Linked DNA regions of Homo sapiens. The protein of the gene in region 1 interacts with the protein of each later gene in a pairwise test. Each region holds a gene or a part of one and is shown in the gene's direction. Other genes may lie near its edges.

Region 1 (7,281 bases):
AGCAGGCTTAACCTGATCTGGCCAAACCACTTTCAAAAGTAAGATCTCGTTTTCATCTCCGGATTCAAGACTCTTCCCCCAAAATTGCTTGCATTTTGTAAAGGGGTTGACTAGCACCATTTCTTTGTAAAAAGAGGCACTCCTGGCCTTTAAGTCACAATTACAAGAAGTTGAATAAAAAGTTGATGAAGTGCAGGGTAATCTTTAGAGCCCAATAATGGTCACAGCGTATAGGTTGTGTGAGATTTGTATGTTGGTCTTGCACGCAGTGTAATGTTCTGAGCCTCTCAATATTGTAATGAGTTTCTACGAGTGAGTCTTTACTAAAGGAATCCAGAAACTAAGGAGACACTGATGTATGGACCAGATGTTAAAGAAAATGTTTTGACCCAGCAGATACTCTGATAGAATACTGGCTATTATTTTTGTAAAGCCGATGTGATTGCAACATAGGCACGTAATCTTTATCATTAGAGATGAATAGCAGCATCTGGACACCAACCCATCAAACTGCTTTTCAAATTCTGCAGTTTTTCTCATCTTCTGCTGAATCTTGGGATGTCTTTTTATATTCCTTGGTTTTAGCTCCTAAACTCTAAATTCTAATTTTCAAAACTGAAACATCTCTGAATCTACTTCTTTCTAAAGAATTGCAGCCATCTCACCAAATTTCCTTTAAAAAAGGATTGAATTGTCAAATAGGAGGAAATTGTTTTGTATTGTGAGTCTGGTTAGGTTTATCAGTCTCTTGAAACCCGGTTGAAATATTTTTTTCTTGGTTTTAAACAAGAATGCTTTAATATTGTGGATATTGTCTGGAACTAGAACGTGACATTTTCAAGCTGACATTACAGGTGATTTTATAAGGTAAGTACTACTGGTTTTGCCAAAAGGTTGAAAAGGAATTCAGGTGGTGGGGGAAGTGTTAATGGGATTTGCCTTACATAGCGTTTTTTCCTCCTTTCTCTACAATAAAATCCGAACGTAGGTGGTAAATATTAATGCTTTCATAGCTATTTTGCCCAGGACAAGGGCAGAGCTACAGCTGTGTATATTTCTTGAGCCTTAGCATTTTATGTTGATCAGTGTTTTTACATATGCGACTGTTTTTTTAACAAGGCATGGTGACTGATGTTTAGGAATTTTAAGTGTTTTGACCCAGGTTAGTATTGGGGGTGTGGGCTATGTAGAATTAGATATTGAAATCACTTAGTCTTGTTTTTAAACTGCAAACCAAAAGAAGTTCTTCACTGTAGCAAATTACAGTCTTGAAATTCCCCCAAAATCTTTGCTTTGAATTGGGTTTTGGAGGTTACATTGAGATTGATGTTATCAACATAGATTGTTACCTGACAGTTTGGATAAGGGGCCCCTTTTTCTCTAATTTTTGTGGTTAGAAATTAGGTTAAAAGGTAGTCTTCTGAAAAGTCAAAAGATATTTATATTTGCTTTTGTTGGGGAGTACTGACTGTTTTATGAATGTAAATTTAACAGTCTGTGCTATATTTACAAGAGAGTTTTTATAAGCACAGGCCTACAACTAATTTCAGATGATGTTTTTTTCCAGACACTATTCTCCAGTTTTTGAGGATTTACTTATCCATTTACTCTTCTGGTAGACAGTTTGGCTGCCAGAAAAAAATATAGTCCTTATTATATTGATATGAGCATTGACCTTTCCATAACAGGATTAATGAGGTTTTCTTTGCCCCTGTCCCTCCCAATTTTTAAAATATTGCCTTGTCAGTCAACTTAATGAGTTTGTGCATGTTTAATGTTAAATGGATTCTAGTTGTATCCCCTAGAAACATTTTAACAAAAATTGTGTTGATAGGACAAGTTTCTGTTTATTTCTAACTAGGGTCTCTTAACTAAATGTACATAACATTAGCCCAAGAGTTGATCTTCTGGTTTTATAAAGTAGCCACTTGAACTTAGCTGAGTTGAATTAAATCTAATATTTATAATAATTTAGTAATGGTTTTGTTCTTAGACTATAAGAGAAGGAACCAGGTTAGGAAGGGGTAATGAAGTAACAGCAGGAAGGTATCCACATTGAAAACAGTTGTGATAGCTAGAGCTATGGCCTCTATTCTTGTATCTTCTGCATCTAAGTGCCCTGTCTGTATCGAAGTTTTAGGAGGCCCTAAGGAAACCTGCTTGGGCATTCTGATTCCATGATTACATTTGTGCTGCCAGAAAACATTTCCCATTGCATTTTAGTGATGGAGATTTAAAGAAAGCCAATTACTGTAACTCCCTTAAATAAAAACATATTTAAAAATTTTCGGATTAAATAAACAATAATTGACTCTAAAACTAGACTGGAAATTATCCTTTTGTTAGGAAAGACATCACAGCACTTGCCAGATTAACGATGGTTGTCTTTATGCCCAGATAGGTATAAAGACTTGCAATTTTTTTAAACAAAGCCTTACATTTTTTTCAGGAGGAAAAACCAGGAGAGGAAGTAATTGACAATAAAATGAAAGATCATCAAAGTGAAATGTAGGATAACAAGAAAAACTAGCATGTTTTATGTAGGCAGTATTTTATTTTGTTTAGTATGTTCAACAGACATTTACAGATCAACTAAATTCAATCTTTTTAATTATTTGAGGAGGTGAGCTGTAATTTAAATAGTGCCACCTTTTAAAGTAGTATTTCTCCTTTGGACATCCAGAAGACTTAATATTTTCTAAATTGAGGGGGAAAATGTACAACAAAACTCTTTGAAAATACCAGTGTTGGATTCAAGTTTGTTCTGCTTTCCTTCATAGCTACTGGCATATTGTAGGTGGTTGACTTGATTTTGTCTTTTTATGATTCATACTATAAAATCTCACTAGAGCAGCTTTTCCAGGGGGTGGGTTACACTTAAGCTCCAAATTGTCAGGTTCCCTGACACCGTCTTTCTGCAGAGCTCTTTAAATACAGTACAAAAATGTGTGACGCTAAATACGTTTCTTTATCCTATCTAGACAAGTCACAATACTGTAAACCTCTTCAACCCTGAGCGTTTGTCATTGTACAAATGAATTGTCCGTGCTTTCCTTTCATGCACTTATGTATTAATGTGTCACTTTTTGACTAGAGGTGTGCTTTTGACACTTAACCTATTTTCTATTGAATATAATAAGAAGTGTGAAATGTAACTAATAGTTCTTAAAATGTTAAATGAACAGTAAATGTTCAGTGGCGCACTTCACATTCAACTTAAGCATGATAAGTCTATTTGGAGTAGAGAAATGAGATTACCATATATTCTAGAACCAGCAGAAAACTATGTAGTTTTCAGTTTTTTGAGCTGCATATTCTAGTTTCTTTTTTTTTTTTTTTAATCCAAATCAACAAAGGGATTTTTTTTTTCTAGTTTCAGTTTTGGCACTGGATTTTATCCTGGAGTTTTAAAATATTCTTCATCCTGTTCTTTTTCTATTAAGGTTAATGTTGAAGAAGGAAAATGCGGAAGTCGTCATTTGACAAGTTTTATAAATGAGTATTTGAAGCTCAGGAATAAGTGAAGCTGAAATTTGAAAAAATAAAAGAAAGAATGCATGCTAATTATCAGACCAGAAGTCCCACTTGTAGAATATTGAGCAATTTGTGTGAAGTGGGGAAGATGAAAGAAGTCAGAATTTGAAACGGAAGAATGAAGAAAAGAAATAAAAATGAAGTTAAGATAAGAAGTAATCTGGAATCAGAAAGCACTACGCTAAGTAATTACTAGTCTGTTTATGTGTCCCTGTATATTTTGCTAAACATGCATGCATTATTTGTTTAATAGAGGAAAATATATACAGGGTAAAGAAGTGCCTTCCAGGGGAAACGTTTAAATTAGGTAATTCTGATTTTAACTGCTTAGTTAAATGATTGAAATGCAATTTTTAAAAAATATTTAGTAGTCAAGCACCAGGCAGCAGTGAGCTCTCCAGCATGGGTAACAGTGGGCTTCATGTTGTCCTCTCTAGATAAACTTTACCTGTCTAATGTTGCTGGTCCTGGGGCATGAGCGAATACCTCCAGGGTTGGAACTGGTGGTCTTTGCCACCTCCCTGGACTCTTAGATTGCACTGTCCCCTTTCCTTCAGTACTGAGCAATGTATAGTAGAATATTTTCTGTTAAACCATTTTCAAAGGAATGTCACCAGGATGGTTATGGAACCAAACCCCCAAAATCCAAACAAAGCATTGAACAAAATAGTTCCCTTTGGCATTAGTGTGTTAGTTTTTTCCATATGGCACTAGTGGAAATCTGTGAGCATTTGGGCCCTAAATTTAAGATGCATATTTGCTAAATACACAGGGATGGTTTTTCAAATTCTGTTTCTGTTTAATGCCTATTTCAGCTGATTGACTAGGATTACTGATAAAATACCGTAGCTTCCCCTTAGAAGAGGTGGGTCACACAAGTGAACAGGATAGCTAATACAAATTGCAGTAATGGCAGATGCTTTCATTCCTATTTCTCCTTTTTTGCTATCAACATTTAGCTATTGTAATGTTAGAGGTAACGGTTACAAAGTAGCTTTATTCTGGTTACCTGGTATCCCTTGCACTTATTGAGAAATTCAACCCAAAAGCTGTCCCTTCTTTTCTGTGTGTTTTGTTTTAGCTGAGTAGAAGGGTCAAGTGATTGGTGTAATGTTACTTTCAGTTGAATGAGACAAGTACACATATCAAAAATAATACCCAGTAGTAGTCAGCCAGCGGTTTTCTACCCAGTTGAGAATGCCAAGGGTATCATGTCACACATGTCTTCCTGAAATAAACTTTCTCTGAGAGTTGTCAGGTCTTCATGCTCTTGGAGAAAGTGACTTAAATGGCATTTCTTGGAGAATCCATTTTCTGATGCTTTCAGGCCTGTTTATTTCTATATCTTGCAAGCAGAAGAAAATTTTCTCTTAAGAAGTTTTGCATTCCTTTGTCAAATTTCTTGCCATAGATAAACTAATGATGATAAATGTTATTTTATGTTCCAAATTACTCAAAGAGCAGGCAGGAAACTGAGGTAAATGTGTGAATGAATATTACATTTTAATTCCAAGCCCATGGATTCTTTTATCAAGAAACCTGACAGGTCCTTGGGGTGCAAAAGAGGAAAAGACCTCTTAACCCCCAGCCCACTAAAGGAAAGAAAGCAATTTGGAATCTGGTTATGACCCAAGCTGGATAGACTTAAGGTGAGAAAACGTTGCTAGTGGACCATTGTGTCCATTTGTTTTTGTTTTCCCCCTTGACCAAAGCATCTGTGGGTCCTAATGTGTCTCCTCCTCGGGCCATAGGGAAGATGAGGAGGAGGCCGGCTTCTGTTCCTGAGAACAGGCAGTGTGTGAAAGACTGCCTTAATCAGAGGTCTGATTAATGCTAAGGGGAGTCAAAACAAGGAAGGGGATGACAGTGTTTCAGGAAGATAACCTTTGCCAAGGGAAAAAAATGAGTAGGAAGCATGTAACTTCTGAGGTTGACTAAGTCAAGTAAGTCAGACTTAACTAGTATGATAAACAGTGTTTTAAGAGATGCAGTGTTTATGAGCCACTATTTTAAATCTAACAAACCACATTCAGTTTTTAAAATAATACAGGGATTGGATGGTTAGTCCTTTCAAATATGTTTTTGTAAGGTGGTTGCTGTTCTCAGAATAGGGAGATGTGGATTATTTTGTTGGAAGGCTAAGTGTGTTGTATTTTTACTTGATGTATTCCCTTTAGGTTTTGTATTAGGATGTGGCTGAGATCCAGTCTGTGAGAGCTTGATTGATTTCCTGAGCATTTTTTCAGGGAAATTTTGGTTTTATTCATGCTAATTTTAGTTTCATGGTCCCTTTTTTTGAGGCAGTGGTGTCCAGTTCTGTCTGTTGGTGTGGTTTTAATGTGTTGACCATGTCAGCCCTGAGAGTGGAATTTGAAGTATGCTTAGATTTAGGGACTTCCCCAACTGGTTTTTATAGCTTTACCTGTCTGCATTGAGATTTAAAGTTAATTATGCTTTTGATTTGGGTGCTAATTTTAGGTCTTATTTCTTGTAGGCAAGTTTTATTCCCTTGCCATATGTATTTCCCAGCCAGTTAAATGGCCAAAATAACTTCAGAAAGCTTTAACTTCTTTAAGAAAATATCCCTGATAAAGGATCGAGACGTTTAGGTGTTACCCAAACAAGTGTCAGTATAGAAAAGGAAGCCTTTGCATTCTGGTATTTCCCTTATTCCTGGCCCAAGAAATGATTGCTTACAAAATATATCTGCATAGTCCGTTAGTTTTGGAGGCTGAGTGAAAACTCCTGTGATTTCAGAAATATTGTATCTGTGATCTGCTAGATTTTAAGGAGAAAACTTCATTAAGTCTTATTTTCTAGGTTAGGAGTACTGTCTCTTCCCTCAGTGGACAGGCTGCCGAAGCATCTTAGCTTAGAATAAAGGTTTTTCTGTTAAAGCCAGGAGCTTAAAGAGGATCTTGACTTGACCCATTCTTCCTTTATACTCAGATTCCTGGGCTGACTGATTTCTGTTAACTACAGTTACTTTATTGGTAGTCTTAACTGTTACTGTGAAACACCCATATTCTGCTTTCACTTCTGGAGAAAATTGTTTCATTTCCATAGAGGTAATCTTTCTAGTGTTGGAGTAAACAGGCTTTTAGCAACTTTTGGGTTCCCCATTTCTATATTCTCACCTATGTTAATTTTTGCCTGTGGTAAAAATAGCAAAAACTACACCCTCATTTTTGAGACTTCCTCCTTTGTCCATGGAGAGAAGGGAAGTGTCCGTTCAGAATACTTGATAGGGAATTCCAAGGGATTGTTGTTAATTGGAAGCCCCAGAGCATCACTACATCCTTTAACCATTTCTTGATGTTAAAGGCAGCTGTTCATATATTTTTCTTTTAATCTTTTTACAGTCAGTCATGGAGGGAGGTAGAGGGGAAAGGCTGTCACATTTCATGTCACCCCACCATGTTTTATAATGGCTTTGAAGTCATTTGAACGTTTCTAGAGTCGTCTGGGGCCTAGAGACCTGAACTCATTTTACTGGATGAGTTAGCCTTTCCTTCTGTGTTAAACCTCAAACCTTAATTTGTCTATTCTGTGTTACATTATAAATGTTTTCCCTGAGCATCAAAGGATCATCCAAATTTTCTCCATTATGTTGTAAACCACAAAACTATCTTCTAAAGTGTTTTGAGCTGTAATTTAGAATAATCCTCTACTGTCCTTTCAAGAATGTCCAGAATACTCTGAAGATGTATCACACAAGGAAATCTCTTGTGATTTTATCTGAAAGCT
Region 2 (7,109 bases), on another chromosome or scaffold:
TGTTACATACAGCAAGATTTCCTTTTTTTATTTTTATTTTTATTTTTATTTGAGACACAGTCTCTCCTCTGCGGCCTAGGCTGGAGTGCAGTGGTGCGATCTCGGGTCACTACAACCTCTGCCTCCCAGGCTCAACCGATTGTCCTGTCAGCCTCCTGAGTAGCTGGGATTACAGGTGCGAGCTACCATGCCAGGCTAACTTTTGTATTTTTAGTAGTGATGGGGTTTCGCCATGTATGCCAAGCTGATCTCCAACTCCTGGCGTCTAGTGATCGGCTTGCCTTGGCCTCCCAAAGTGCCGAGATTACAGGCATAAGCCACTGTGACTGGCCGATTTTCTTCTTTTTTAAGACTGAATAGTATTCAATTGAATGTATAAACCATATGTTTTTTAACCCATTCATCTTTCAACAGACGTATAAGTTGTTTCAAAAGATACCAGGTTTTGGCAAGGATACGGAGAAATTGGAATACTTATACACCATAGCAGGAATGTAAAACGGTGCAGCGACTATATAAAAAAAAAAAAGAGTATGGAAGTTCCTCAAATATAGAACTACCATATGATCCAGCAATTCTATTTCTGTGTATATATCCAAAACAATTGAAATCAGGCTCTCAAAAGAGATATCTGTACTTCCATGTTCATTGTTATATTTTTACAATTATATTGTGATGATCCCTGAGGTCTGAAGAGGATTTTTGGCTGCAAGTTTTTAGTTCAGCATCTTTACCCAGAAAGTTATTTCCACCCATAGCTAGGCCAAAAATCTGAGTCACTCAATACTACATTTTCTGGTTAAGTTCACCAACAATAATTGTTAGAACAATCCATCTTTCCTGAACTACAGAAACAATAAAAATAACAATAGCTCCAGCTTATTGATCACTTAACTGCCTTTAAAAAAATCATTTGAAACATTATAGCAATCCTTTGGAAATTATTTCTAAATTCCCATTTATTAAGATACTAAAGATTAGAAGTTAATTTCTCTAAGGTCTCATGCTATTGAGAGACAGAGCTGGAATTTGTACCCACGTCATTATGACTGCAAAGCTTACTCTCTTAATCACTACACAATAGCTTCAGACCAATGTTCAACATACCTAGAGTTCATCCTTTATAACCTCAACAACTTTTCCTATTTACTAACATGACTGAATTAAAAACCGCATTTTTTTACAGCTGTGCTCTTAGTTTAACATAAACTTACTTCATTTTATTTTTTGAGACAGGGTCCAGCTCTGTTGCCCAGGCTGGAGTGCAGAGGCGTAATCATGTCTCACTGCAGCCTTGACCTCGCCGGCTCAAGCAATCCTCCCACTTTGGCCCCCAGAGAAGTTGGGACTACAGGTGTGCACCACCATGACCAGCTATTTTTTATTTTATTTTCTGCAGAGATGTGGTTTCGCCAGGTTGCCCAAGCTGGTCTTAAAACTCCTGAGCCCAAGTGATCCACCTGCCTTGGCCTCCCAAAGGGCTGGAATTACAGGCATGTGCCACTGCAGCTGGCCCCATAAACTTATTTTAATAACAAAGATGCAAATATGGAATTCTATTTACATTAAAAATTACTCCTTAGTTCTAATAGGACAAATGTAGAATCAGGGAAAATGGCATTTTGATATCTTCTAAATTACTTGGCTGTTTTCTTATGCTCTTCTTTACAAAAAATTATTAAAGGAAACTCAAATATGCAAAAAAGTAGAGAAGAGAGTATAATATTAACTAATGTATGTGGAAATCAAAAGGTATCTGAGGCAGGTCTCAATCAATTTAGAAAGTTTATTTTGCCAAGGTTAAGAAAGAGCCCATGACAGCCTCAAGCTGTCCTGATGACATGTGCCCAAGGTGGTCGTGCACAGCTTCATTTTATACATTTTAGGGATACATGAGACATCAATCACCAGCTTGACTTCTTCCTTTGGCTTAGTGATGTTGGGGAGATTTTCCTTTCACATATGTATCGCCCAGCTTCAACAATTGTTAACTCATGGGTAGACTTGTTTAATCTATTCTCCTACCCATTTCGCTACACCTGCCACCAGTTTGATAAATCCCAGATACCATATAATTTCATTTGCAAATATTTATTACTATTCTTATTATTATTTTGAGACAGAGTCTAGCTCTGTTGTCCTGGTTGGGGTGAAAGTGGCACAATCTCAGCTCACTGCAACCTCCGCCTCCCGGGTTCAAGCAATTCTGCCTTAGCCTCCCGAGTAGCTGGGACTACAGGCGCATGCCATCATGCCTGGCTAATTTTTGTATTTTTAGCAGAGACGGGGTTTCACCATATTGGTCAGGCTGGTCTCAAACTCCTGACCACAGGTGATCCGCCCGCCTGGGCCTCCCGAAGTGCTGGGATTACAGGTATGAGCCACTGCATCTGGCCTGCAAATATTTTCATATGAATCATGAAATTATAAGAAATTCTTTAAAAAGCAAAACTTATTAAAACTAAAAATACAAATAGCAATTCCTCAGGATCATCAGATATTATTTAATGTGTGTGTGTGTGTGTGTTTGTGGCGTGTGCGTGTTCGTATATTCAAATTAGTGTTCAATTAAGGTCCTAGAAATGGGGCCACTCCTGGTGGCTTCACACCTGTAATCCCGCACTTTGGGAGGCCGAGGTGGGAGGATTGCTGGAGCCCAGGATTTAGACACTAGCCTGGGCAAGATGGCTAGGTGTTAGCCATCTTGCGGAGATGGTATATCTCCACAAAAAATGCAAAAAATGTGTCGGATGTGGTGGAGCATGCCTGTAGTTCCAGCTACCTGGGAGGTTAAGGTGGGAGGATCACTTGAGCCCAAGGTTGCAGTGAGCCATGATCACACCACTGCACTCCAGCCTGTGTCACAGTGAGACCACGTCTCAAAAAAAAAGAGGTACCACATTCTAGACTTCTAGACTACTTGTCTTTCCCTGAATATGCAGTTAGTTTGCCAGTTTGTCTTCATATCACGAAGTTACTTAGTTACCTTTTTCAGATTTTTCTTTCCCTTATAACTCAGTTATAGTTCAAGGAAGCAAAATTAGATTGTTTCCGTTGGACAATGAATCTTAAGCAAGTTTCTCTTGCAGATTTTACCACACTATGTAGTTATGTATCTACTGGTCATTTATTCTGTAGTTTCGATTCCTCGATGGTCTGCTTAAATCAATTTTGTGCCCCAGGGCCTTGATAACATGTTTAAATTAGTTATTAATTACAAAGACCTATTATGATACAATTCTTTCCCCAATTAAAAACAAAACTAGGCCGGGCGTGGTAGCTCACGCCTGTAATCCCAGCACTTCATCCTGGCCAACATGGTGAAATCCCGTCTCTACTAAAAATAAAAAAATTAACTGGGCGTGGTGGCGGGCGCCTGTAGTCCCAGCTACTCAGGAGGCAGAGCCAGGAGAATCGCTTGAACCTGGGAGGCGGAGGTTGCGGTGAGCCGAGATCGCGCTGCTGCACTCCAACCTAGCGACAGAGCGAGACTCCGTCTCAAAACAAACAAAAACTAGCAGGCTTTTGTGACTACAAACAAGCTGGTTGCATGCTGCACTGCCTTTGGGTAAGAGTGGAACTCCAACTAAGAAAGTACATCTGGTAAACATAAGGGATTCACCCAGACTTGTCCTAAATAAGACTCCGATTACCCGAACTGAATCAGGAGTCCTTTAGAGCGACTCTAGCTAAGAAGGCCTGTTAGGCCCTGCACTAAGAGTTTCAGGTGGGAAAATTGCGCCATCCAGTTATAGGCCGTACAGCGGGAACTCCATGAACAACCTGGGTAACCTAATCCCTGAATAAGACTCCTTCCAGGTACCAGTGGGCTGAGGGCGGCAGGGCGACGCGCTGACGTCACGTCACGTTCCTTTGCACGTCCCCGCCTCCCCGCCCCTCTCCGCACTGTGACGTTCCCAGAGAGGAACGAAGCGTAAACAGCGCAGGGCATTTCGGGAGCGGGATTGTTTCGCGCAGGAAGCAGGCTCCATTTTAGCGCCGCCCGCCGTCGCCATCTGTTTCCCTTCCCTCCCCCATACCTAGCCCGAGTCTGAGCCCTAACGAGAAGGCTGGGCCTAGGCCGCTGGATGCTGGAGTGAAAGGAAGGGAGAAAGGGAAAAAGCGGGAAGAGTCGAGAAGGCTGAGTGTTAAGAGGCCAAGTGCGACGCGCGTATCCGGGCAGACGGACTGACGGACGGGCCCGTGCTTCTGCCGCGGCTGCGGCGCCCGCGCGAGTCGCGTCTAAGCGGCGGCGGCGGTGGCAGCGGCGGAAACCGAAGGGGAGCCATGGCGGCTGACAGTCGGGAGGAGAAAGGTTAGTGCGGAGAAAGATGACGGGCCGAGGCGAGGCTGGGGCCCGGGAGTGGGGTGATGGAGCAGTGGTCGTCGTTGGGGGTGGGGGGTGGGGGTTGGGGAGGTTAGCTGGCCTCGCGAGGAGCCGGTGGCCCCCACCGAGACACTTAGACTCTGGCGGAGACCAGGCCTGCCCTTTCGTCCTCAGTCTCCATATGGCCTAGCACTTCATCTCAGTAGGGTTTTTCTTTGATGCGGATTTCACGCTTGACTTTCCGTTTAGCTGTCTTGGGCTGAGAGGGGCCCTTTCTGAGTTGCAAGCTCCTAGGTTTATTTCCTGGTAGGATCATGCGGATGTAACGCGTATTTTCAGGACAACCATTTCTGTTAGGCTAAAATTTGAAAACCCCTAATGCCGCGATCAACACTGGTGGTGTGGTAAGTGAGCAAGTTTAGGAAGTGGCACTGGCAGGTTATTAATCTTGAGAAATATCTGCAAATAACTTCTGGCTGTTCCTGTTAAATAGGCAAAGTGAATTACCCGTTTTGTTCCTCGAATACTTATTTTGGAAAAACATAGTACTTGGAAAAAGGAATACTTAGTTTGGAAAGATGACTGTGTGACTTAGGCTGGCAAAGAAATCCTGGGTGCTATTATGTTAGAAAAACCGTGTGTAGCTCCCAGAGGGTACAGTCAGAAACAAATGAATGCAAGTTACAGAGAGTTGGAGGGATAAATTTCAGTGAAATGTAGAGAGAACTGACGTTGCTGTAATGGAAAGATAGTAATACTAAGTTCCCAAGCCCTAGAGATATTAATGTAGGTCCTAGATCAGTGTCTCTCTGGAGAGTGGTCTAGATTAAATGCTGCTTTAAGATCTTTTTCAACCCTAAGATTAACATAATAGTCTTGGAAAGATTATAGTTAAAAATATGACACGGTCGCTGCTCTGTGTCTCACACATCTCTTCTGTGTGCCTAATTGATTTGGGGTTTTTTTGTCGGGGGTTGTTAAGTGGGCTCTAGAGTCAAGTTACATTAGGCGTGTAATCCTTTTTTCTTAATTTTTCTGGTTTCTGCATCAGGAGAGTCTTCATGCTTCAATGAACTGCCCTAGGTTAGGGACAAGCTGGGAAAGTGGAATGGGTGGGAATACTTTTAAGATACTGCCCTTATCCTAAAGTAGTTCTTTGATTAGGTTATAGCAGTTTAATGTTCCATCCTTAAACTAAATGCTAAAAAATCTCCCTGGGCCTTTTTTTTTTTTTTTTTTGAGAAATCCAGAAGTAATGGGAACATAGGATTGTATGGTGTTAGTGAGTAAAGGAAAATGCTTTTAATTAGTTAACTCAGTTATTAAAATACATGATCTTAATTAGTAAGTATTCAGCAAACATCTGATTGTCTTTCTAATTTATGAACTGTGGATATGGGAGTCTGTAGTGGTTGTGGTGGGCGAAATGAACCAAACACAAAAATGAGTAAAATTCAGTACTTCTCAAGAATTCGTTGTCTAAGATGAAAATATTTACAAGTCGTTAATAGAGTAGACGCAGTAATGCACATTGAAGAAGAAAAGTAGATGATTTTAAAAGTTTTGCTTTAGAAATGATTTAGTGATGATAATGCAGTCCAAATACATAAACTGTGTAGCTATTACTGGGAAGTAGTGATATCACCTGTTGTCTATACATAGGATACATTTCCCCACTTTTGAAAAGGTTCTTTGCCTCACATTTGCTTAGTTTTTTTTATTTAATTTTCATAACTTTATTTAAAAACTTGATGTAAGTGCTTTATCTTTATAGTTTAGAACAAAGATTGTTTCTGGACTACACGGAGAACTAGCACTTACCTACTGGAATTGTTTATTTCGTTTTGGGAGAGTTCTAGGTAACCTACAGGTTGTATCATTTACTTGATGATCATCATCACACACTTAGCTTTATAGTTAGAATCAATACTTAGGTCTTCCTCTCTTAAGGAAAAGTGGGACTCTTAAGCGCTTTATTGTCTTACATGAAACAGGAAATTATAAGGATAAACCCTCTAAAAATCTCAGTCATGTCACAAACGTTAAGTTCTTTCTCAAATGATTCCATAAATGGTTTAAGATCTTGATAGCAAATGAGTCTATAAGTTGCAGAAATTGGCAATTATATTAATCACAGAACAGTAAAGACCCTTGTTCATAGAGTTCTTGATGGGGTTTTGCACTTATCTGGGTAATAAAGACATGAATTTCTATAATCTATAACAATGCTTCAATAATACTCATACCTAGAAGCTGCAGCCCATATAAGTGGACAGATTGCTAGCTCCCTGTGATTCCTGTGGTGATAATTTGCCCAAGAAACTGGATTTGAAAGGTGTTGCAATGTTGGTGTTAACTAATATTAAATGCCATTTTTCTATATAAGGAGGAAATATGCATCTTTTCTATTATTGCAAACACCTTGTATAAATTGTATTAATCTTTTACAAAGTTCTCTACAAAGAACAGTTACAAAAGTTTAATCTATCCAAAATGTGTATGAGTAATGTGTAATGAGTTACTGTGTTAAAAATAACGTGTTTTCTAGATTACCAGACTAGAAGCTCCCTGAGTGCCCGGAGTACATCTGTCTTGTTCACTGGGTTCTTTGTATACAGTAATTGTGTTTCAGTACCTTGAGTATTTACCAGGTTGGACTTCATTGACTGACTGGTTAAATGACATGTGCAGTATGATAACGAAAGCTAAGAGTTTCTCAGTTTAAGTTATACAACAGTTCTCCCCTGACCCCCAACCTCTACCAGCCTTATTTTCCTGGTAA

What was found.
Region 2: the proteins of TRA2B (region 1) and YTHDC1 interact in binary tests that used the Homo sapiens proteins (3 or more experiments, as listed by UniProt).

The regions. Positions count from the first base shown.
Region 1 is NC_000003.12:185,928,015-185,935,295, reverse strand, and holds part of TRA2B (transformer-2 protein homolog beta), read left to right. Parts: intron 1-3,535; exon of another isoform or gene 3,536-3,719; intron 3,720-7,281. UniProt on the Homo sapiens protein: Sequence-specific RNA-binding protein which participates in the control of pre-mRNA splicing. Can either activate or suppress exon inclusion. Acts additively with RBMX to promote exon 7 inclusion of the survival motor neuron SMN2.
Region 2 is NC_000004.12:68,346,932-68,354,040, reverse strand, and holds the start of YTHDC1 (YTH domain-containing protein 1), read left to right. Parts: upstream 1-3,950; 5' UTR 3,951-4,287; coding exon 4,288-4,315; intron 4,316-7,109. UniProt on the Homo sapiens protein: Regulator of alternative splicing that specifically recognizes and binds N6-methyladenosine (m6A)-containing RNAs.